Linked DNA regions of Homo sapiens. The main gene of each other region encodes a partner of the protein of the gene in region 2 in a complex. Each region holds a gene or a part of one and is shown on either strand. Other genes may lie near its edges. A codon is read from its position in the direction of its gene.

Region 1 (7,232 bases), on a different chromosome or scaffold from region 2:
CAGGGTGCATTGGGACGGAAATCTTTTACAAGCCAAACCCAGGCCTTGCTGCCTCCTAAGAAAGGTTACCGTGAACACCATATCCCCTGCATGTTAACAGGCTCAGAGACGGGCAGGAACTTGCTTCAGGTCATGCAGCTGGGAAGGGCAGGACTAGGCCGTGAAATGAAGCCCACTGGGCTCCTCCTACCCACAAGGCTGCCCCAGGCCTGTGCACAAGTACCATGGCCGTGGCTGAAGGGCCGGGCAGCACTGAGGCTGGACTTTGAGTCTTTCCCTGTGGAGATGGCATGGTACTGCAGGGTAGAAGGCCTTCCTAATAGCTGTGGGTGGCGAGCCACATCCCCAGCGGCTTGGGTCACCAATTGGGAAAGGGTTGCCTGGCTTAGGGGGCCCAGGAGTTGGGGCCCCGTCTTGGCTGCTTACAGAAGCGGTACCTTCCTTTTGTACTCTCAGCCTGCTTCCAGCCAGCAGGGCAGGGCGGCCGGGCAGGGACAGGGCCTCACCTTGGTCAATTTCTGTGACATAGCACTCCTCCAGGGCTCCTGAGGGGCTGTGCACCTTGGCATCGATCGCCCCCTTGGCCCCGTTCAGGCTGACTGCAAAAGAGGCTGGCTGGTTGACCTTTAGCCCTGACTCCTGGAAGCACAGCAGACATGGTTAGATGGGGGTGCTTGAGCCAGGGCAAGGGAGGACGGAAAGGCCCCAGGAGCAAGAGGCCCGCGGGTCGCACTTACCCATCTGGCGTCCAACTTGGTTTAAAGAGGGAGAGCCACTGATTTGCAAGGGGCAGCAAGCCACAGGCGCACATCCCCGCCCCTGCCCCCACACTCTGCCGTCGCACACACCCAGGTGGCAGGAAGGGAGGGCTGCCCCACCCTGTGGGCAGCACCCAGCCTTGGCAGGCTGTCCCTCTTTAAACCGCAGCCCTGGTGCTCAAGGGGCACAGGCTTCTGTTCAAAGCCTTTAGACCTGAGACACGAGAAAAACTCCACGTGGTGGGCAGGATATTTCCTGCCGACCCCAAGCGTGGGCTGCACCCGGCCAGAGCAGAGGCCTGGAACCCAGAGCTGGGCCAGGGGGGTCACTGAACACAGGGCCAAGGCCTGGTCTCTGCGGTGGCTCTGGTCTGTCCGGGCCCAGGAGCCCCAGGTGGGCGGTTTCTCTCGGTGCCTCACCTGAAGGCTAGAAACAGTGAGGCGGCGGGCGTCGCCAGACGGAGAAGCCACAGGCACCACGAAGGGGCTGTCGGGAATGTGTTCCTCGTTGAACTTGACTGAGACTTCGTAGTCACCTGGGCAGGGAAAGAGTGTAAGACCGGCTCATCAGCCTTTGGGCCTCCCACCTCCCACGAACAGCCTGGGTGGCCCTGTGACCTCAAAGTGAAGAGTGAGTGCCAGGCAGGGCTATCTGTGCCAGCCCTGGGTCCAATACCCACACTCAGGCCCCACCTCCTCCAACCCCAGCCGGGTTCCCAGTACCTGGCTCCTGGACCACATAAGCCACACCACAGGAGCCGTCCTTGCGGTCCTCAAAAGAGATCTCAGCCTTGCTGGGGCCCTCGACAGCAATGGCCAGGCCTCCAGCACCAGCTTCCCGGGTCCAGATACTGAATTCGGCTGTGGGAGAACAGTTTGTCCTCACTGAAGGCTGCTTCACCAGCCTCGGCCCCCTCCAGGCATAGCCAAGGTAGACATGCCTGCCGGCTCTTTCCTCCACCCCCAACCCCACCCTGGCCAACGCAGGAGAGCGAGCACTCGGGGTGTGAGCAGGCCTACCTGGCACTCCAGCTTCAGCTCTCTCCAGGCCAGGGCCCCCAGCTCGGACCTTGTGGGCTCCCCCTTCCCCTAGGGGCCCCACGGTGAACTGGAAGGGGCTCCCAGGCACGTGCTGGCCCTTGTACTTCACGCTGACTGTGTGTGTGCCCATCTCAGCGGGAACAAAGCGGATGCAGTAGGTGTGGTTCTCCCCTTCCACGATCTCGGCCTCATGGGTCTTGCCCGATGGGCTGGTCACCTGGGCTGTCATATCCTGGATGCTAATTTCTGCAGGGTGGGGATGGGCTAGTGAGCAGCAGCCCTGGGCTCCACCCCTCCTCTTGGGGCTGCTTGAGCCCCAGGACCCCTCCCCAGGCTTCCCACAGCCCCTACCAGGGATTTTCAGGCTGAGGTCACAATGACTACCAACGTTGGCCACTGAAGGAGCCCGACGCCTGCGGGTGATGCTCTCTTTCACCCGGCCCTCGCCTGTCACCTTCACAGAGAAGGGGCTGCCTGCAGGAAGAAAGCACGGCCCACGCCCCTCCAGTCACATACTGCCTGTGGGCCCTGGTGTAGTGAGGGGGGCTGCCGAGGCACTGCTGCACTCACCAGGCACGTGCTGGTCGGCAAACTTGATGTTGATGATGTAGTTGCCTGGCTCTGTGGGGCAGTAGGTGACCCTGCACGTCCCGTCCTCCAGGTCCTCTGTGTTGATGTCCACCTTGCTGGGGCCCTCAATGGACAGGCTGAGCCCACCATAGCCTAGGGGATGGATACCCCTGAGCCTCGGTGCTATGCACAGTGCTCCCGCCCCAGCTGGTGGGCAGCCACTGCCTACCTGCATCGCGGGTATCAATGATAAACTCTGCAGGCTCAAAGGTGTGGCCTTCGTGAAGGCCCTGACCAGAGACCCGAACACGACTGGCATCCCCAATTTCCGACTGGCTGATCACCACCGGGATGGGGCTGCTGGCCACGTGCTGGCCATTTTTCTTCACATGCACCAGGTGCTCCCCCGTCTCCTTGGGCACGAATGAAATCCCTGGACACAGGGCATGGCTGTCAGTCAGGGAGGGCATGGCTCCCCACAGGCTGCCTCCTTTCTGAACCCCCTGGACCCTTCAGCCGCTTACCCACGTGGCCATTACGCAGCCGCTTCAGCAAACAGGGCTCCTCCCGGCCCGAGGGCGGGACCACAGTGGCCGTCAGCAGGCTGAGATCCGTCTCTGAGATGTTGATGGGGATGTCGGCAGCAGAGCCGACCTTTAGGTGGGACATACGCATGGAGTCGTCACCTGGTGGGGACAGGCCAGCCATCAGTGTGCGTCCAGCCATGGGAGACCATGCCCACCCTGCCACCCGTTTCTGTCACTGCTCCCAGTGCCACCCACCTGTGACCCGAGCAGTGAAGGGGCTGCCTGGGACGTGCTGTTCATTGTACTTGACTAGAATGCTGTAGTCCCCCGGCAGCACAGGCAGGTAGGACACGCTGCATGTCCCATCCTGGTTGTCAGTGCAGCTGATTTCTGCTTTGGACGGGCCCTCAATGGCCAGAGACAGGCCCCCTGGAGAGAGCCGTGGGTGAGCATGGGAACTATGCTGGGGACACTCCAGTTGGCCTGCACTGAGGAGCTCCGATGGCCAGGGCAGCAGGGCAGGGAGCCCCATTCAGGAGTATCTCCTGAGTCCAGCCCTTACCCCGGTGAGGGCATCCCGGGCACAGAGCAGGTCAAGACCAGAGCTATTGCTCACCCTCTCCTGCATCCTTGGTGTTGACGGTGAAGGTGGCAGGCTTGTTCACTACTCCATGGGTGAGGCCAGGCCCATAGGCAGTGACATGGCCACAGTTGACGTAATCCACATAGAACTGCAAGGGGCTTCCTGAGGCAGGAAGAAGGGCCTTGTGGAATGGCAGCCTCGTGTGTCCCCCAGCCCCATCTCTCTGTGAGGTGGTGGCGGTGGAGTGGGCAGAGGCAGGGCAGGCCCACCTGGGATGTGCATGTTGTCATAGCGGATGTCCATCTCGTGCAGGCCAGCCTCGCTGGGTGCATACCGCACGGTCACGGTGCCGTCTTTGTTGTCAGTGATGGTGGGCTGCGCCACCTTGCCTGAGGGCATCCGAACCTCCCCTGTGGGGCAGTGGGGCTGAGGTCAGGGCAGCTCATTGGCACAGTCTGGCCTCCTTGGCTCCCGAGCTCCTTCCCAAGTCCCCACTCACCTGTGATCTCGCCCTTCTTGATGGTGAAGGGGATGACAAGGTCAAAGGGCCTCAGGCTGGTCACATCCAGCCCATTGACACCCACCAGGGGCCTCTCCGGGGCCTGCAGTGGAGACACAGGGCATGGGTGAGGGACAGTGGGAGGATCTGGGGTCCCTCCTCACACATGGTAAACTAGGGGCTCACAGAACACCCAGCTGGCTAGCCCCAGTGTCCCTAGCTGGCCAGGCCGTACCCAAGTCTGCTGGCCGCCCTGGGCGTAGGTGTACTGTGGGGCCAGCTGCTGAGACCGTAGAGGGGGCTGCACCGAGGGCTGGTCCCCAGCCAGAGCCTGCAGGGCAAAGCAGAGAGCTGCTGGAGAGTCTGTTGTCACAGAGGGGCCCCAGGGGAACAGGCCGGGACCTGCCAGACACCCCTGCTGACCTACCCCCCACCCCTCCTCACCGTCACTTGGAAGGGGCTGTTGGGCACGTGCTCGCCACCAAAGCGCACACAGATGACGTATTTGCCCGGCTGGGGGGCCGTGTAGAAGATGTCGAAAGTGCCGTCCTCATTCTCCACCACGTCCACATCCACCTCTGAGCCATCAGGCGTGCACACGGTGCACGTCACTTTGCCTTTGCCTGCCGCCTTAGTGTCCACAGTGATCACCGTCTCCTCCCCAATCTGAATGGTGGGGCCGATGCCAGCACCTGGTGGGGCAGGGTGGGTCCCCAAAGGGGGGCCAGCGTGTGAGCTCGGGTTCAGGTTGTTCCCGTCCGCCTGCCGCCCACACAGGCCTCTCATTGCCACCACCAAGCACAGCCAGGCCGCCAGGCCTCCTGCCCCGCCCTGCCCCTCCAAGCTGGGATGGCGAGTGGTTTCTCAGAAGGCAGGAAGGTTTCTCCTGACCACCTCAAGTGCCCATGTGGGAGAGGCCCGACAGTAGCACCCAGGTGCCTGGGAGGAAAAGGAAGGGCCCACTCCAGCCTAAGTGTTGACAGCCACTCCCTTGCCTACTCAGCCTCGTCCAGCACCATGGCCCACACTGCTGAACGCCAGCATCTGGCTGGGCACACGGCTGCCTGCGCCCTTCTGGCCTGGCCCCGGCCCCCATTGCTGTGTGTGGACGCGGTGAGGCGGAGTCCTGCTGCAGCGTGGGGGGATGTGACACTTGCCTCCCCACCCCCCAGGCCTGATGGTGAAACCGGAGTTTCCTGACAACTGAGAAGGCTCGCGGTGAAAAGCAGCCCGGTGCAGACAGGAGTGGGAGCGGGGAAGCGGGAGGCAGCGGGGTTAGCACCCGAGTAGCGCAGCGCAGCAGGCTTGGCAGAGCGGGGATAGCACCCAGGGAGACAGGGAACAGGAGGCCCAAGCTACAGCCACCACTGCTGGGTTGCGAGGGCAGAGCAGCTGAGCAGGCTCCAGGGCCCCAGAGTGCCCGAGGAAAGGGGAGAGACAGTGACGTTATGATCTGGGTCTCCGCCGTGGAGGCTTGGGGGGCTGTGGGCTGTGAGGCCTGGCAGTGAGAGTGCCCCCTGCAGCCTGGCCTCCTGCCAGGGAAGCAGCCAGGAGCACGAAACCTACTTGAAGGCCAAGCTCGAGGGGCCCTGCCACCAAGTCCCACTATCGGCCGAGGGCTCCTGCTGCACTAGGCTCCATGCTGGCCTGCCGCGGCCAGGCAGCTCTCCCAGGCTCCAGACCTGGCTGCCGGCTGCCCACGCTGCCCTGGGAGGCTTCACTCATGTGCACCCCATGCCATCTAGTTAGTGGCTTGGGCCCCAACCTCACAGGTACCCGACTGCCCCCACTTTCCCTGCCCGGCTCCCAGCCAACCGCAGGTCTCAGCCACTCCATCCTCAAAGTATGCCTCCTAATTTGGCTCTCACTGAAGCCCCGTGGCCGTCAAGCTTGCCAGAGAGCAACTTCAGCGCCCCCTTCCCCACCCCGGGCTCCCTGTCTCCATTCTGCAAACAGTAGCCAGGGAAACTGAGGTTACTGAGTCTTGCTCCCACCCTCAAAGCCCCCAAGGCCCTGCAATCAGTACTCCCCAGCCTCCCCCGCCCTGCGCACACACGCCTGTCACACACACATCGGATCCTACGGCCTGCTCTATAAAGCCATCTCGCTCCTGCCGCAAAACTCTAGCCACCCTCTCACCCTTTCCTTAGCCACCTCGCCCAAGTGCCAGGCCTGTAGCCTCTCATCAGCATCCCTGGGTGTCCCTGGCTGGGGCAGGTGACCCTCCATGCCTGTTGGGGAATGTCTGAATAACGTCACTGCTGGGGGATAGGGGAAGGGGGAAGGAGGGAGACGGGCCACAGAATGCACTTTGGGGCTCTGAGGCTGGGCCGGGCCCCGCCATGCTGGCCGCCCAAGCAGTCGACACTGGCGCTACTGCACTACCAGCCAGCCCCACCCGCTCATGCACCTCCCCCGGCCCGGGACGCAGAGGCCCCTGGAAGGTGGGGATGGGGGTCTGTGGATCTGGCCAGGGCTGGGGCTCCCATTGAGTTGGGGAGACCCCTTGTTCCCTCAGCCCACGCAGGAGCCCTTGTGCCTCCCTGGGTGCCAAGATCCCGAGACCCCAAAGTCCCCAGTGGGGTGCCTCTCAGGATGCACCTCACCCCAAAGCTCTCAGCTGCAACCCGAGTTCTCAGATGGGGAAATAAAGGCCCAGAGAGGGGAAGAGCTGGAGCGGTCATGCTCAGCTCCGGAAGCCTCCCTGGGCCCTCGCCCTCCAGCCCACGGCCTCATCTTCTGCACCCCACCCAACTCTGTCCCTGCCTAGAGCTGCAGCTGGAACTGTCCTGGGAATCGGCCCCAAGAGGAAAGGAAGCTGCCCCTCTGGGCAGGAGGGGCATTGGGAGTGGCCCCAGCAAGCAGCTTACCTAGCCCGTGACCTCCGATTGACACTGAGGTGAGAGGGCAGAGAGCAAGGAGAAAGGTCAGGTGAGTCACTCAAGGGGGCGGCCCCCACTCCCACACGCCGCCCCAAGCAGCGAGCCCTTGCACACAGGCACAACCCAAGCCCCGTGCCGAGCGCCGCAGCGGCCAACAGCGGGCGGGCTCACCTGTGACAGTGCACTTGCTGGCGTCCCCGGTGGGCACGGCACGCACGCGGTACGGGGAGAAGGGGATCTCGTCACCACCGTACTTGATGAGGATGGTGTAGCGACCTGTCACGTCTGGCACGTAGGCCACTGTATACGTGCCGTCATGGTTGTCTTGGATGTGTGTCTTCTTCGGCTTGCCTTCGGGATCCTGTGTGGCAG
Region 2 (8,234 bases):
TCAGCCTTTCAAGAAGGAAAGGCTTTCTTTCCTACTGTCTTTTGATACATTTCTTTCCTACTCTGTTTGATACATCTGTGTTCTCCCTTTGATTAAAGAGGAGCTGTTCAACTTGAACCTGGGGTTGAGTACTCAGATCTGCCTATATTCCTAAAATAGCAAAGATCCTTACCCAGAAAGAAATGACATTAGACCTACAAAAATTAGCCGGGCGTAGTGGCACACGCCTGTAATCCCAGTTACTCGAGAGGCTGAGGCAGGAGAATCGCTTGAACCGGGAGGTTGCCGTGAGCCAAGATCACACCACTGCACTCTAGCCTGGGCAACAGCGTGAGACCCTGTCTGTCTCACACACACACACACACACACACGTTAGAAAATGAAAAGTGAGGCCAGGTGTGGTGGCTCATGTCTAATCCCAGCACTTTGGAAGGCCAAGGCAGGTGGATCACTTGAGGTCAGGAGTTTGAGATCAGCCTGGCCAACATGGTGAAACCCCATCTCTACTAAAAATTTAAAAAAAAAAAAAAAATTGGCCAGGCATGGTGGTGCATGCCTGTAATTGCAGCTACTCAAGAGGCTGAGGTAGGAGAATCGCTTGAACGTGGGAAGTGGAGGTTGCAGTGAGCCAAGATCATGCCACTGCACTCCAGCCTGAGTGATAGAGTGAGACTCCGTCTCAAAAAAAAAAAAAAAAAAAAAAAAATGGGCGGGGCACGGTGGCTCAAGCCTGTAATCCCAGCACTGAGGCCGAGGTAGGCGAATCACGAGGTCAGGAGAGATCGAGACCAGCCTGACTAACATGGTGAAGCCCCGTCTTTACTAAAAATACAAAAATTAGCCAGGCATGATGGCGTGCGCCTATAATCCCAGCTATTCAAGAGGCTGAGACAGGAGAATCACTTGAACCCGGGAGGCAGAGGTTCCAGTGAGCCAAGATCATGCCACTGCATTCCAGCCTGGGTGACAGAGTGAGACGCCATCTCAAAAACAAAAAAAAAGTGATTTTCTGAGAGCAGGGGAGGTGACAAGTCAAAGAGGCAGACTGGACTGTATAGAGTGTTATGTGAAGATACGTGCAGTTAATTGCCTTGTTCTGATAAGGCCTCAGCCACCTTGGCCTGAAACATGAAAGTACTCCCTCTTCAAACCCTTGATGACTAATTCAGGCCTCGTCAGCCATTTCCATTCTTATTTGCCAAAGACAGCTTCACTCACTTCTACCAACTCATATCTCAATTTTTGCAGCATTTTCCTGGGTGGCCTTCCTGACTAGAACCTAATTTCCTGTTCTGTGTAAGCTTACTGGCTTTTCAGAATCTGAATGCAGCTCATTTTGTATTCATTGCTTCCCAGTAAAATTGTAATCTCTGAGAGAACAGGGAGTGATTCTTATATCCCCCCACCGCAGCCCCCAACGTATCTCACACTGAATACATAGTAAACATTTTGATTATATGTTCAAGAATATGAGCAAAGTGGCCAGGCACAGTGTCTCATGCCTATAATCCCAGTACTTTGGGAGGCCAAGGCAGGAGGATCTCTTGAGCTCAGAAATTCGAGGCCAACCTGGGTAACATAGCAAGACCCCATCTCTACAAAACAATTTAAAAATTAGCTGGGCATGGTGGCACAAGCCTGTGGTCCCAGCTATTCATGAAGCTGATGTGGGAGGACTGCTTGAGCCCAGGGGTCAAGTCTGTAGTGAGCCATGTTCAGGTCACTGTACTACAGCCTGGGTGACAGAGCAAGATCCTGTCTCAAAAATAAAAAGAATATGAGCCAAGTAAAATATCATTAACTGAGGATTGTGCATCAGAATTGAGCCAAAAAAAATTCAAAAATGTGTTTTTTGGTTTTTGGTTTTTTGGGTTTTTTGAGATGGAATTTTGCTCTTGTTGCCCAGGCTGGAGTGTGATGGCACGATCTCGGCTGACCGCAACCTCCGTCTCCCAGGTTCAAGCAATTCTTCCTCAGCCTCCCAAGCAGCTGAGATTATAGGTGTGCACCACCACACCCGGCTAATTTTTGTATTTTTAGTAGAGACAGGGTTTTGCCATGTTGGCCAGGCTGATCTCAAACTCCTGGCCTCAAGCGATCCGCCCACCTTGGCCTCCCAAAGTGTTGGGAGATTACAGGTGTGAGCCACCATGCCCAGCAAAAAAAAAAAAAAAAAAAAAAAAAATTGTTTTTTAGGCATAGTCTTACTCTTGCCCAGGCTGGAGTGGAGTGGCAAAATCGTAGTGCACTGTAACCTAAAACTCGTGGGCTCAAGTGATTCTCCTGCCTCGGCCTCCTCAGTAGCTGGAACTACAGGTGTGCACTACCGTGCCTGGCTAATTTTAATTTTTTTGTAGAGACAGGGTCTCACTATGTTGCCCAGGCTGGTCCCAAACACCTGGCTTCAAGCAATCCTCATCTTGGCCTCCCAAAGTGCTAGGGTTACAGGCATGAGCCACCAAACCTGGTGTAAAAAATCTTTATAATTTTATTTTTCTTTTCTTTCTTTCTTTTTTTCTTTTTTGATGGAGTCTCACTCTGTCGCCCAGGCTGGAGTGCAGTGGCATGATCTTAGCTCACTGCCACCTCCGCCTCACAGGTTCAAGCAATTCTTTTGCCTCAGCCTCCCAAGTAGCTGGGATTACAGACACACACCACCACGCCCAGCTAATTTTTGTATTTTTAGTAGAGACGGGGTTTCACTAGGTTGGCCAGGCTGGTCTCAAACTCCTGACCTTGTGGTCCACTCGCCTGGGCCTCCCAAAGTGCTGGGATTACAGGCATGAGCCACCATGCCCGGCTAAAATCTTTATGATTTTCCATCCCCCATGGATTAAAGTTCAGATTCCTTAATATGGCATTCAAGGACCTCCAGTAATTTGAATCCCCAAGCTTTACCCCCTTGCGCCTCAGTCCAACCCTTTAAGCATTCTGCTATGCTGAGTCAACTACTTGTCCTTCCCTACCTCTGTGTTCCTTTGCTGCTCTCATGTATTCTCTATGCCTAAAAACCCTTTCATTCTCTGACAAAAGGCAACTTGAACATGAGTTCAAGTGCAACCCATGTTTGAATCTTAGTTTTGCCATCTGTTGGCTGCGTAAACATGGGCAATTTACCTAAAACTCTTGTGCCACAGTTTTGTGTTTATAAAATGGGCATAATAGTACTTATTTCCTAGGGTTGTTATGAGTAACAATGATATACGACTTTGATAATCTGTGTATTTTTCAAGGCATGCTTGACTGTCTCTCTGCTGCAGTTATGTGTGTTCATGTCTTAACTCTTTCTGGGCTGTTTGTTAAGTCTCCTTGATGGCTATCTTTGGAGTTTTTAAAATATTTTATTTTTTATAATTTTAAAATAGAGACGAGGTCTCACTGTATTGCCTAGGCTGGTCTTAAATGCCTGAGCTCAAGCCATCCTCCTGCCTCAGCCTCCCAAAGTGCTGGGATTACAGGCATGAGCCACTATACCTGGCCTAATGGTTATCTTTGTATCCTTTATCAACACAGTGCCTTGAACAGAGTAAATACTTATTGAAAACTTGAGTGAAATGTAAGTTCATATTTGGCCTCACAGAATACACCAGTAATACAGCAATCACTCACCTGAGGACAGTGGGAGGATAGAAGGTAAGTAGAGGACTGGGTTAAGTATTCGTTCAAGCAAATACATTAATTACACGCCTCCCATGTACTTGACACTGGGAACTCAGCAATGAAGAAGGCCCAGACCAAAGTTCAGGCTTTTAGCTTCCTGTCCTATAAAGGATAAGATTCTTAACTCTAGGCTGAGGTAGTAAATTACGAGGGGACTTCAAAATGGTACAGGGTGGTTGAGCAGGATACGGCAATGGTTAAGTTTGATCAGAAAATAGAAATCAAAAGGAAAATGTGGCTATGGTTACCCCTAGCGGACCTCTTAAATCTTCCTGAGAACCTGCTTTTTTGGGAAGGCATGAGTGCCAGTAAGACTTGGCACTCCTCCTCTTCCGCTTACCGAGAGAAAATGACTTTGCCTTTCTGCTCAAAACTCATCCCTTCACTTTGTCACCCTATGTTTGCATCTTCCATCCTTAGTGTGTGTTTCCATCCAGTCTTTCAGCAATACACGTACTACACATTGGACTCTTGGGTAGTCTCTAGGGCTGTAGCAAGGAGCCTTGCTCCCAAGGGACTCATTTACACAATCCTGTGAACGGACCAAGAGTAAACAGTGTGCTCAATGCTGTGCCTACGTGTGTTAGCCCACGCGGCCAGCCTGAGGAGTCAGGGAAGGCTCCCCTAGGCAAAGCCCCCAACCAGAATCAAGTCTTAATGGTTAAAGAGCTCCATCACCCAAAAAGGATTGAGGGCCTACCTTCAACTGAACAGCTAATGCATAATCTCAGAAACTGTGAGTCAAAATTCCCTGGAATAACTCCACTTTATCCCCAATCTCCTTGCCACCTAGACCAAGGTCCATTCACCACCCTGTCCCCAGCACTGACTGCACTGCTGTGGCCACACTAAAGCTTGGCTCAAGACGGAGGAGGAGTGAGGAAGCTGCTGCACCAATATGGCTGGTTGAGGCCGCCCAAGGTCCTAGAAGGAGGAAGTGGGTAAATGCCATATCCAAAAAGATACAGAAGCCTCAGGTTTTATCGGGGGCAGCAGCTTCCTTCTCCTTCCCCGACCTGTGGCCAAGTCACAAAGCACCACAGCTGTACAGCCAGATGGGGGAAGGGAGGAGATTAGAACTGTAGGCTAGAGTAGACAAGTATGGACCAGTTCACAATCACGCTATCCCAAGCAGAAAGTGATGGTGGCTTGGACTAGCACGGTGGTAGTAGAGATGGGGTAAAGATTCAAGAGACATCATTGATAGGCAGAACCAATAGGACATGGTAATAAACTATTCTCAGGAAAGGGGAGGAGTCATGGCTTTCAGCCATGAGCATCCACCCTCTGGGTGGCCTCACCCACTTCCTGGCAATTCTAGCCACCATGAGTCCAGGGGCTATAGCCCTTTGCTCTGCCCGTTGCTCAGCAAGTTACTTGGGGTTCCAGTTTGATAAGAAAAGACTTCCTGTGGAGGAATCTGAAGGGAAGGAGGAGGAGCTGGCCCATTCCTGCCTGGGAGGTTGTGGAAGAAGGAAGATGGCCAGAGCTTTGTGTCCACTGCAAGCCCTCTGGCTTCTGGAGTGGGTGCTGCTGCTCTTGGGACCTTGTGCTGCCCCTCCAGCCTGGGCCTTGAACCTGGACCCAGTGCAGCTCACCTTCTATGCAGGCCCCAATGGCAGCCAGTTTGGATTTTCACTGGACTTCCACAAGGACAGCCATGGGAGGTGAGCCGTAAGGGAAGTTGGGGTATTGGGAGAGAGCAGGACCCCTCCCCATCACTGCTTCTGGGGGCTTCGAGTTTCCCATTTGCGATAGCAGTTGAGCAAGGTGACTTGTGGGGCCTATTCAGGTTGATTTCTTGTCAAGAATGTTGGGGTCCAGGGGACTGGCTCAGGTGAAGGTATAAGGGCAGGGCACATGTGGGCTGATGGGCACTGAAAACTACAGCAAGAACAAAGGGAAGACAAGAGTTGATGCTTTATTTTTTCCCCAAGGGTCAGTTGTATGAACCACTCCACCCTCAACACCTTGAAATGCAGAGAGGAGGCCGGGCGCGGTGGCTCATGCCTGTAATCCCAGCACTTTGGGAGGCCGAGGCGGGCAGATCACCTGAGGTCGAGAATTCGAGACCAGCCTGACCAACATGGAGAAACCCCGTCTCTACTAAAAATACAAAAAAAAAAAAAAAAAAGAGACCAGGCACAGTGGCTCACACCTGCAATCCCAGCACTTTGGGAGGCAGAGGTGGGCAGATCATGAGGTCAGGAGTTCAAGACCAGCCTGGCCAATATGGTGAAACCCTGTCTCTATTAAAAATACAAAAATTAGCTGAGCGTGGTGGCACACTCCTGTAGTCCCAGCTACTCGGGAGGCTGAGGTAGGAGAATCACTTGAACCCGGGAGGTGGAGGTTGCAGTGAGCTGAGATCATGCCACTGCACTCCAGCCTGGGTGACAGAGTGACACTCCGTCTCAAAAAAAAAAAAATTAGCCGGGCGTGGTGCCGCATGCTTGTAATCCCAGCTACTCGGGAGGCTGAGGCAGGAGAATCGTTTGAACCTGAGAGGCAGAGGTTGTGGTGAGCCGAGATCATGCCATTGCACTCCAGCCTGGGCAACGAGAGCGAAACTCTGTCTCAAAAAAAAAAAAAAAAAAAAAAGAAAGGAAATGTGGAGAGGAGCACATGTCCTAAATTGATTTGCAGAACTAAAGTTGTCTACCCTCCCGCACCTTGCATTTCTGTTCCATTTCCCTCATCTCCATCAACATTATAAATATTTGAAAAGAAGCAATAGGTCATTAATGATTAGTATTGATCAGGCTTCAGAATCAAGAGTGCCAAGATTAGAGTCTTGGCTCCTCCTCTTCATAGCGTGTACCCTGAGCTACTATTGTGAGAGACACTGTGCCCACCAGCTTCAGGGAGTGGCAATGGGTGGCAATGGCAGATAGCCTTCAAGTGTCAGCCACTTAGGGGATTTCCTCTGCTGAAGAGAGCCAGTTCACTCCAAGTCCCCTCCCAAGATGGCCCACATCCAGTGTCTGATCAATGAGAAGTGGGTGAGTGGGGAGAGTGGAGGCAGGTGTGGGGGAGGCATTTGATAAGGGTCCAGCCCTCTTTCATCAACTCTGACAATTCTTTTTTTCTTCTTCTTCTTTTTTTTTTTTTTTTTTTTTTTTTTTTGAGATGGGGTTTCGCTCTTGTTGCCCAGGCTGGAGTGCAATGGCACAATCACTGGCTCACCGCAACTTCTGCCTCCCGGGTTCAAGCGATTCTCCTGCCACAGCCTCCCGCGTAGCTGGGATTACAGGCATGTGCCACCACACCCGGCTAATTTTGTATTTTTAGTAGAGACGAGGTTTCTCCATGTTGGTCAGGGTGGTCTCGAACTCCCAACTTCAGGTGATCCACCCGCCTTGGCCTCCCAAAGTGCTGGGATTACAGGCTTCAGCCACCATGCCCAGACTTTTTTTCTTCTTTTTTTTTGAGATGGAGTTTCGCTCTCGTTGCCCAGGCTGGAGTGCAATGGGGTGATCTCGGCTCACTGCAACCTCTGCCTCCTGGGTTCAAACGATTCTCCTGTCTCAGCCTCCCGAGTAGCTGGGATTACAGGTGCATGCCACCATGCCCGGCTAATTTTTGTATTTTTAGTAGAGACAGGGTTTCACTATGTTGGCCAGGCTGGTCTCAAACTCCTGACCTCAGGTGATCAGCCTGCCTCGGCCTCCCAAAGTACTGGGATTACAGGCGTGAGCCACCACACCCGGCCAACTCTGACAATTTTGAAGGGTCATTCTAGTTCCAAAGCTCGTGGGGTGTTGGCGAATGCTGTCATTGGGCCTGAATCAGCTCAACTCCTTCCTGTGCCCACTCCTGCTGATTTCCCCTCCTATAAGTAGTGATCCCATTGGCACTACTTAAACATCCTGCAGGCTAAAAAAATATTATGGGCCAGACACAGAGGCTCACGCCTGTAATCCCTTGGCCTCCCAAAGTGCTGGGATTACAGGTGTGAGCCACCATGCCCAGCCTATAAAAAAATTTTTTTTAATTAGCCAGGCATGGTGTTGCACACCCGCAGTCCCAGCTACTAGGGTGGCTGAGGGGAGAGGATTGCTTGAGCCCTGGAGATCAAGGCTACAGTGAGCTGTGATCATGCTGCTGCACTCCAGCTGGGCAACAGAATGAGACCCTGTCTCAAAACAACAAAATTATTTTTTAAAATTATAGCATTGTTTCAAGAGCGTTTGTTATGTATTTGGCTGGGACCATGCTAACCGTTACTCGTATTTATTACATTTACTCCTGACAGCATTGACTGGTTGTGAAAACCAGTCATTGGTTATGAAATTGGTATTCCTATTTCACATATGGCAGAATTGTGATTTAAACCTAGATCTGCTAGGGTCCTCCTATCAGCACACACACTCCAGCCCCACTTTAGAGGTACCCGCTACCTTCCCTCATTAAAACCAGCTCTCAAGAGGGGATCTGGTAACAGTCTAGGCAGGCATTCCAGGGAGCATGTGAACCGCTGGTTCTTGTTGCGGGTGGAAGGATGGAGGTGTTGTACAGAGTTTAGGTCTTTTTCAGCAAAGATCTCAAACCCCTGGTGTTCAAATCAAACCAAA
Region 3 (7,191 bases), 2.9 Mb from region 2:
TTTGCAATCTGGAGTTCCTCAGCCTTCCCTATATGAAGGTCTGCAAAGCAAAAACACAAGCACGGGAATAGTATCGTTGTGACATATCTAGCTGGATGCAGAGACATGGTTTACAGTCAATAAATAATAAAAGGCTGTTTTTTCACTCCACATATGAAATAGACCAGCTCAAACTGAACAGAACCTGTGATCATATAAACACCCTGCTTTGGCCTGATTATAATTATCAGCAAGATGCACAAAGCACTATTTTGCACCACACAATCCCACATGGTGGTCAATCATAAGCTCAGGATCTACTTCAGTTCCCACACATTTCATAGCTTATGCAATAAAGCATGTTTCAGGACAATATTTCTAACATGGGATGTTTGCACAAGTGCCTGAGAGACAGATAGGTCAATAGAAAGGATCAGCGTATCCAAAGATCTATTTTCTTCCCCTCCTTCCTCCCCTCCCACCAACCCCTCTCCCCTTAGGCAGAAGCGGAGGAGAAACGACCAATAAGGAAAGTCGTGGAGAGACTGGAGTGTTTTACATTTTAGATTTTACTTTCTTGTGTCGTTTTACAAAAGAAAGGTATTAATTACCTTGGAAAGGCTGGCGACTGGTGAGGGACTGAAGGTAAAGAAATATTTTCCTTTGCAATCAACTGTGCATACACAAACAAAGGTAACCAAATTGTAAGTTTTTCAAATTCCTGAGAGTGAAGTTCACGTAACAGAAATGGCTTACGCAACAGAAGCCTCAGAGGAAAAGATTGGTGGATCCATTACATCTAACTTAGAATGACTTTCAGGAAACGTATTTTTCTTGCCCATATTTTTTTTCTGGTGGAAGGGGGCCATTTTTAGTCACTACAAAAGGAAGAAAGGGGGTTGGGTGCCCACAGATGCTCCAGGACAAAGGCCCTGCCCAGCCCACCTCACCGTGTCTCCAATCTTGAGTCCCATACAAGACTTGAGGCCAGGGATGACCTCATTGTTGAGGCAGGTGGCATTGAAGGATAGAGACAACTCTTCAGGGAGGTCACGCACTTCCAGCTCTACTTTAGAACGGATTTTCTGAGCAGAAAGGGGCACAAGAAGACAAGAAATTGAACTGAAAGGAAACGGGAAATGGCAAGAGCCAGTTCCATCCCAAGCCAAATCTGGCAAGTAGCTCTGGACTCACCCCAGCAGTGCCAGAGGCCAAGGTTTGACCTGGAAGCTGCCGGAGCACCCCTAGGACTCTGTTTCCTGCGCAGGAACCTGCTCCCTCTTTCCATCTCCACTTGCGTCTAGGTGAGTCTGGGTAAAATGTACCAGCTACACCCTCCTGCAGGCCTCACAGATGTTGCAAAAGGGGAGTGCCAATACTGGTCACCTTGGAAAGTGGCATTTTCTACCTAATGTTTCATCAACCTCACCTTCCCCATGTCTCAGCTCTCTCTTTTCCCTGTTATTGGAGCCCAGTTTTCCCTCACTCTGCCCCCACAATTCCAGGGCTCTGCTCCTTCTCCATCTAATCACCATCCCCATCCCCATCTTCTTTCCTTCTTTCTCTCTTCCTTCCTTCCTTCCTTCCTTCTCAGAAGGCTGCATCCCTTCTAGAGCGGGCCATTGCCTGGGCTCTGGGAGCACACGGAGAAGGCAGTAAGACCGTGTGGTAGACTGGCAACTGGGACTCACAAATCTGAGCCCTGCTGTGTAAGCCAAATGAGGTGGACTCTCCGCGGGACTATTCCCAGCACAAGACACTTACCCCATAAGCATCAACAATGAGCTGGAGGACATTGCTGGAATCCATGGACAGAACCCCAACTGTGGTCCCTGGGATGAGCTCACTATAGTTCTAGAAAGGAAAACAAAGATGTCCAGAGCTTACCAAAGGAAGCTGGTGGTCTCCAAAAGCCCTCCCCAAATCCCACTGAGAGTCCTGAGATGAAGATTGGAGGAAGGTACGGGATATTTCAATTGTCACTGCCAGGAATATATCTAGCAGTTTTTCAGCCCTGAGCAAAAGTAGAGGAAACCTCTCACACCCCTCACCACCTCCCCTCCACCACCACAAACACCAACACATACCTAGTAAGTTCAAGATTGCAGGAAAAAGGCCCAGAGTGCAATCTTTAGCTCCTGGGGAGTGGATTAGGGGAGACTCTTTCCTGATTGGGGACTGTATCCAATGCTAGCACAGGCTGGCTACCTGGGGCACCCACCATCACAGGGCCCACTCCAGGAAGCCCGAAGGCACAGTCACCTGATAGAGATTGACTACATTTTCAGTCACTGCAAAGATCAAATTGATGTTTTTCTGGGATAGCTTCTCAGTCATCAGCCCCAAAGAGGGATAATCCTAGGAAAATGAAGGATGTAGAGGTTAATGACGTCTCATGTACATCTCTAGGGTCTAAAGCTTAGAACTTATCTTGCTTGGGCTGTGGCTCAGAGTGTGGTGGTGCTTAAACCATTTCACTTCATGCTGAAAGTGAGACAAGAGCCTGGGCAACATAGCAAGACCCCATCTCTACAAAAAAATTTTTTTTATTTGCCAGATGTGGTGGTAAGTGCCTATAGTCCTAGCTACTGGGGAGGCTGAGGCAGGATCACTTCAGCCCAGGAGTTGGAGGTTACAGTGAGCTATGATTGCACCACTGCACTCCAGCCTGGGCAGCAGAGCAAGACTCTGTCTCTAAAAAAAAAAGGGGGGTGACAGTGAGATAAGAAGGGTAAGTAGCACAGAAGTCTACTTGTGAACTCCAGGGATAGACGAAGAGGTACAGGCCAGTGGTGTCAAAACTAAGCACCTCTTTCTTCCTGCTTGAATTTAATGCACTAATACTATGGAGCTGCTTCCGTGCACAAGGGACTGGGTTAGGCCTCTGTTTTGGAACTACTGACAAATGCCTTGGCCTGGCCCTCGTGATCCTCCACCGTGTGGTCTCAGTCTTTCTTTCCAAATATTGCTCACCTCTCTCCCTCTTCCACTCAGCAGTGATCTGGCCCACTGTCTCCCACCTGGAGTGGCCTTCTTGTTGGTAATCCTCCTCCTTTCTTAGGGCCTAGCTTAGCCCCCACCTTCTTCAGGAGACTTCCTTGGCCATCCCAGCTCATGATGACCTTTCCTCCCTTGGATACGTATAGCCACATTGGCTGTGCCACACCCATTTGGCACTAATCATGCATCTTGTGTTATTGTAAATATATATATCCTTTCTCCTCAAGTAGACCAAAAACTCCCCAAGGATAGAACCATACATAGTCTTGTTACCTCCCTCAGCCCCTGGCCCAGTGCCTTGCATAGATTAGGGGTCAAATGTTGCTGACTCATTGTCTGGTAGTGCTTGACTTGGATATGGCTGACACCAAGGAACTCAAGGACACTGTGCGGGGGCGGTGGTGAATCGTGAACATGTCCATGGGATCCTAGACCTTGCAGGGAGCTCATTAGATCCTCAGCTCAGTCTCCTGCCTTTACACAGGTACACCTTTAAGTCACCTAGATGAGGAAGTTGCTATATTGTCCTTAGGAGACGAAGAGTTCACACCTGCCCCAGATACCTAGAGCATTACAGCACATTTCTCTTATGGCTTATAGTAATTTCTCCTGATTCAATTTAAATATTTTCCTCTTGTTTAACCTTCTATGGCCATATAAAACAACTTATAAGAAGTTTTCTCATGTATAAGCTAAATCATCCTTTAGCCTTCTTTCTTTCAAGCTAAATGACTCTGGCCCTTTAATCTTTCCTCGTAGGACCTGTTCACCATGCCTTTTATGTTCTTTCCCCTCTTTCTCTCTCTCTCTCTCTCTCTCTCTCTCTCTCTCTTTCTAAGAGAAGGGGTCTCCACTAGGAGCAATGGCTCACACCTGTAATCCCAGCACTTTGGGAGGCTTAAGAGGGCAGATTGCTTAAGCCAAGGAGTTTGAGACCAGCCTGGGCAACATAGAAAGACCCTGTTTTCAAAAATTAGCTGGGCATGGTAGTGCATGCCTGTGGTCCCAGCTATTCAGGAGACTGAGGTGGTGAAGCTTGTGAGCCAAGATTGCACTACTGCACTCCAGCTGGGCAACAAAGCAAGACTCTGTATCAAAAAAAAAAAAAAAAAAAAAAAAAAAAAAAAGCAGGGGTGGTTCTTGCTCTGTCACTCAGGCTGGAGTGTAGTGGCAAGATCACAGCTCACTGCAGCCTCAGACTACTGGGCTCAAGAGATCTTTCTGCCTCAGCCCCACAAGTAGCTGGGACCATAGGCACAAACCACAACACTCAACGAATTTTTGCATTTTCTTGTAGAGGCAGGGTCTCACTATATTTCCCAAGCTGGTTTCAAACTCCTGGACTCACGTGATCCTCCCACCTCAGCCTCCCAAAGTGCTGAGATTACAGGCATGAGCCATCATATGCCTGGCCAATCTTTCTCTTTTTTTTCCTCTGTCTTCTTCCAATAACCACAAGTTAGTATGGTATTCCAAGAAAGGGCTAATCAGAGTGGAGAGGAAGACCTGCTTTCCAGCTGGGTTGTAAAAATCCTTTGGGTCCATTCTGGATCCCATGATGCTGCTGCTATGCTGGTGACAGTGAAGGCAGTGATAACACCACAATCAGGGACATCTCTAATGGTTATATAGGTTGTATGCTGGATGACGGTGTCCAGTTGGTAAGGGATAGGGGCAAGCTGGAACCGAGCCCTGCACCCTGCCCAGAAGGAGGGGCTGCCATTTTCATATTCACACAGACTCTGCCTAGATTAGGGCAACCCTCACAATCATGAATAGAAACCATAGGTGGTGCCAGAGATCTCACCATGGTAGTGGAGGCAGAGTAATGATTGTCACTACCAACATGACACTGCCCGTCATTAGGCTGGACAATGCCTGCCAGCCTTCCGTCCAATGCTATATGAGTCTTGGCATCAGTGGTAAACACCAGCAAGTGGGATGCATCATTCCTCCAGCCAATCTTTTCCTGTTAAAAGAAAACAAAAAACAAAGGCAGAGGAGACAAAACAAATTCAGCCATGTCACTGGTAGAGAACAGAGACCCAAGGTGCTCCCTGGCTAAAGGGCTGGACAGCTTATTTTTCTTCAAAACAAGGGTCTCAGTCCCAGTCCTTGGAACCGAAGCTGAAGCTTTCCAGTTCAGGAGTTTCATTCTCTTCAGAAAACAGTCTCATAGCTGATTAGTTCAAGCAGCTGAATGAGATCTTCTTAAACTCCAAACTTAACTCTTCTAATGACAGTCACATTGCTCATCTAGAAACTGACGTGCATCCACAGAGCTGATCTGGGCTAGAAGAAATCTCATCTGAACATCTGCCTACTTTGCTGAGGTTAAGTTAACTCAGCCTTAACTCTGAAGTAACTCTGAAGATGGGAAGATGCTCTCCCCTGGGAACATCTGAGACCACTGAGGTTCAAAGAAATGTCAGCTCAGGCCAGGGAGTGGATCTAAGCCAAGGCTGAATATCAGGAGCAACTTACTACTCATAACTGCAGGAAGCCCTGCTTAGTTCTCATCTCATTTTACACCAGAAATCCCCAGAGTTCAGTCACTTCCTTTCCCATTTTGATCTATGCCAGCCACACCTGGCACTCCAAGTCCTCCAAACTCACATCACAGACTGTAGCCTGCATGATGGCATCAAAGCCACCCTCTGGGGCATCTCGGTTCCGTGACACACTCTGCTTCTTCACTTCCTCATTGAAGCGGGTCACCTGGTCAGTTAGCGTCAGCACGTGTTTGTAGCCAAACATGGGCAAGCAGGTGGTCTTCATACTGGGGAGGGATGGGAGATAATTTAAGCAGACACCTTCATGGAAAAGGCAGCATGGGAATTGGGAGGAAAGAGAGGGGACAAATATAGATAGTGGTATGCCAAGGCCAGTTCCATACAACCACAGTTACCCAGACAGTTCAGACTCCAAAATCCTCAAATTATCTGAAGCTCCCCATCAACATTACCCCCATCCAGCTAACCTAGAAGATAAGAGATTGAGCTGGAAACAAGACTCCCTGAGCTTAGATCCCAGGTGCCCTCTGTACTAGTCATGGGACCTTTGGCAAGCCTCTCAATCCAACCTATGAAAGAGGGGCCAGGATAGCACATATCCCATAAGAGTTGTGAGACTTAAGTAAGTTCATACACACAAAGCACTTAGACCAGAGCGAGGCTCGAGTTGCTATTACTATCACCTTATACTTAACACTTTCCTAAAGTAACAATAAAGCAAAAGTCCATCAGTAAGTTAAGGTCCCTGAACCATCAATAAATTGATAGATCATGCAAGACAGGAGCATTTCTGCCCCCAGTCAAAATAGTGTGTTTAATTAATAGCTGATGTCTTGCCTGGGAACCTTACAACCCAGATAGAAGGTTGAATGCCACATCATATAACTTCAAAACTTTTTCTTTTTTTTTTAGAGACAGTTGTGCTCCATTGTCCAGGTTGGAGTGCAGTGGCACAATCATGGCTCACTGCAGCCTCAACCTCCCAGGCTCAATCAATCCTCCCACCTCAGCCTCCCTGTAGTCCTGGGGACTGCAGGCATGCGCCATCACACATAGCTAATTTTTTTGTAATTTTTGTAGAGATGGGGGTCTCACTATGTTGCCTAGGCTGAACTCAAACTCCTAGGCTCAAGTGATCCTCCCATCTTGGCCTCCCAAAGTGCTGGGATTACAGAAGTGAGTCACCCCACCTGGCCGTAACTTTGAAAACTAAAAAGTAAATTCACACCTTTTCAGGCTCAGCAACCAGCATTGTAAGTTATTCTAATACATGGATTTGCACAGTCTCCACCGATTAAATAAATAAGCCATTCAGTTTTAAGCCAAAGTGTCAAACAGAGGCACAAGTTATCCATTTACAGACTATAAAAGTGTCCAACAAATGTCATTTCCACTCTTTTATATTCCTTAGCACTTCATTTCTTCTGTTTTCACCCTGCAGGATGCACGGCCTTGATGAAGACAATAATGCCAACAATGGAATCGATCCTTCTGTAATCGTAATTTCTCGGTTTCCTTATCCATAAATTTCTTTCTACTTTTGACGTCATTTCCCTCCCATTCTCTCTTGCCTTCTATTTATTTGTTACCAAGACTGAGAAGCTGATGAATTTTCTTTCTAGGTTCTCCAAACAGCCTTAGGCTCCATTGACACAACACTCCAGATCCACAAGCTAGCCCATTTGCCAAACAGGGAGAC

What was found.
Region 1: the proteins of ITGA2B (region 2) and FLNA are in contact, whole or in part, in an NMR structure (PDB 7SFT), measured with the Homo sapiens proteins. Residues at the interface, in NP_000410.2 of Homo sapiens: Trp1019, Lys1020, Val1021, Gly1022, Phe1023, Phe1024, Lys1025, Arg1026, Asn1027, Arg1028, Pro1029, Pro1030; in NP_001104026.1 of Homo sapiens: Thr2263 (codon at 1,602), Gly2267 (codon at 1,590), Ala2268 (codon at 1,587), Gly2269 (codon at 1,584), Gly2270 (codon at 1,581), Leu2271 (codon at 1,578), Ile2273 (codon at 1,572), Ala2274 (codon at 1,569), Val2275 (codon at 1,566), Glu2276 (codon at 1,563), Gly2277 (codon at 1,560), Ser2279 (codon at 1,554), Ile2283 (codon at 1,542), Phe2285 (codon at 1,536), Asp2287 (codon at 1,530), Arg2288 (codon at 1,527), Lys2289 (codon at 1,524), Gly2291 (codon at 1,518), Cys2293 (codon at 1,512), Val2295 (codon at 1,506).
Region 3: the proteins of ITGA2B (region 2) and ITGB3 are in contact, whole or in part, in a cryo-EM structure (PDB 8GCE), measured with the Homo sapiens proteins. Residues at the interface, in NP_000410.2 of Homo sapiens: Gln49 (codon at 5,284), Phe52 (codon at 5,293), Arg72, Trp141, His143, Asn145, Glu152, Ala153, Glu154, Lys155, Pro157, Arg184, Phe191, Tyr197, Glu199, Phe202, Pro217, Tyr221, Phe222, Phe262, Asp263, Tyr265, Tyr268, Thr290, Trp293, Thr294, Gln315, Met316, Ala317, Tyr319; in NP_000203.2 of Homo sapiens: Ser188, Pro189, Tyr190, Tyr192, Ile193, Ser194, Pro195, Pro196, Tyr204, Asp205, Met206 (codon at 5,757), Arg242 (codon at 5,649), Asp243 (codon at 5,646), Pro245 (codon at 5,640), Lys279 (codon at 4,891), His281 (codon at 4,885), Ile282 (codon at 4,882), Ala283 (codon at 4,879), Leu284 (codon at 4,876), Asp285 (codon at 4,873), Arg287 (codon at 4,867), Leu288 (codon at 4,864), Ala289 (codon at 4,861), Gly290 (codon at 4,858), Val292 (codon at 4,852), Gln293 (codon at 4,849), Pro294 (codon at 4,846), Asn295 (codon at 4,843), Asp314 (codon at 2,337), Tyr315 (codon at 2,334).

What each region holds. Positions count from the first base shown.
Region 1 is NC_000023.11:154,350,403-154,357,634, forward strand, and holds part of FLNA (filamin-A), read right to left. Parts: intron 7,222-7,232; coding exon 7,032-7,221; intron 6,873-7,031; coding exon 6,849-6,872; intron 4,671-6,848; coding exon 4,423-4,670; intron 4,310-4,422; coding exon 4,214-4,309; intron 4,082-4,213; coding exon 3,979-4,081; intron 3,890-3,978; coding exon 3,749-3,889; intron 3,642-3,748; coding exon 3,513-3,641; intron 3,326-3,512; coding exon 3,152-3,325; intron 3,056-3,151; coding exon 2,894-3,055; intron 2,803-2,893; coding exon 2,599-2,802; intron 2,523-2,598; coding exon 2,370-2,522; intron 2,274-2,369; coding exon 2,151-2,273; intron 2,046-2,150; coding exon 1,779-2,045; intron 1,620-1,778; coding exon 1,482-1,619; intron 1,295-1,481; coding exon 1,179-1,294; intron 640-1,178; coding exon 507-639; intron 1-506. UniProt on the Homo sapiens protein: Promotes orthogonal branching of actin filaments and links actin filaments to membrane glycoproteins. Anchors various transmembrane proteins to the actin cytoskeleton and serves as a scaffold for a wide range of cytoplasmic signaling proteins.
Region 2 is NC_000017.11:44,386,379-44,394,612, reverse strand, and holds the start of ITGA2B (integrin alpha-IIb preproprotein), read left to right. Parts: upstream 1-4,963; 5' UTR 4,964-4,986; coding exon of another isoform or gene 4,987-5,139; coding exon 5,140-5,327; intron 5,328-8,234. UniProt on the Homo sapiens protein: Integrin alpha-IIb/beta-3 is a receptor for fibronectin, fibrinogen, plasminogen, prothrombin, thrombospondin and vitronectin. It recognizes the sequence R-G-D in a wide array of ligands.
Region 3 is NC_000017.11:47,284,827-47,292,017, reverse strand, and holds part of ITGB3 (integrin beta-3 precursor), read right to left. Parts: intron 5,759-7,191; coding exon 5,596-5,758; intron 4,949-5,595; coding exon 4,787-4,948; intron 2,338-4,786; coding exon 2,242-2,337; intron 1,834-2,241; coding exon 1,744-1,833; intron 1,065-1,743; coding exon 930-1,064; intron 1-929. UniProt on the Homo sapiens protein: Integrin alpha-V/beta-3 (ITGAV:ITGB3) is a receptor for cytotactin, fibronectin, laminin, matrix metalloproteinase-2, osteopontin, osteomodulin, prothrombin, thrombospondin, vitronectin and von Willebrand factor.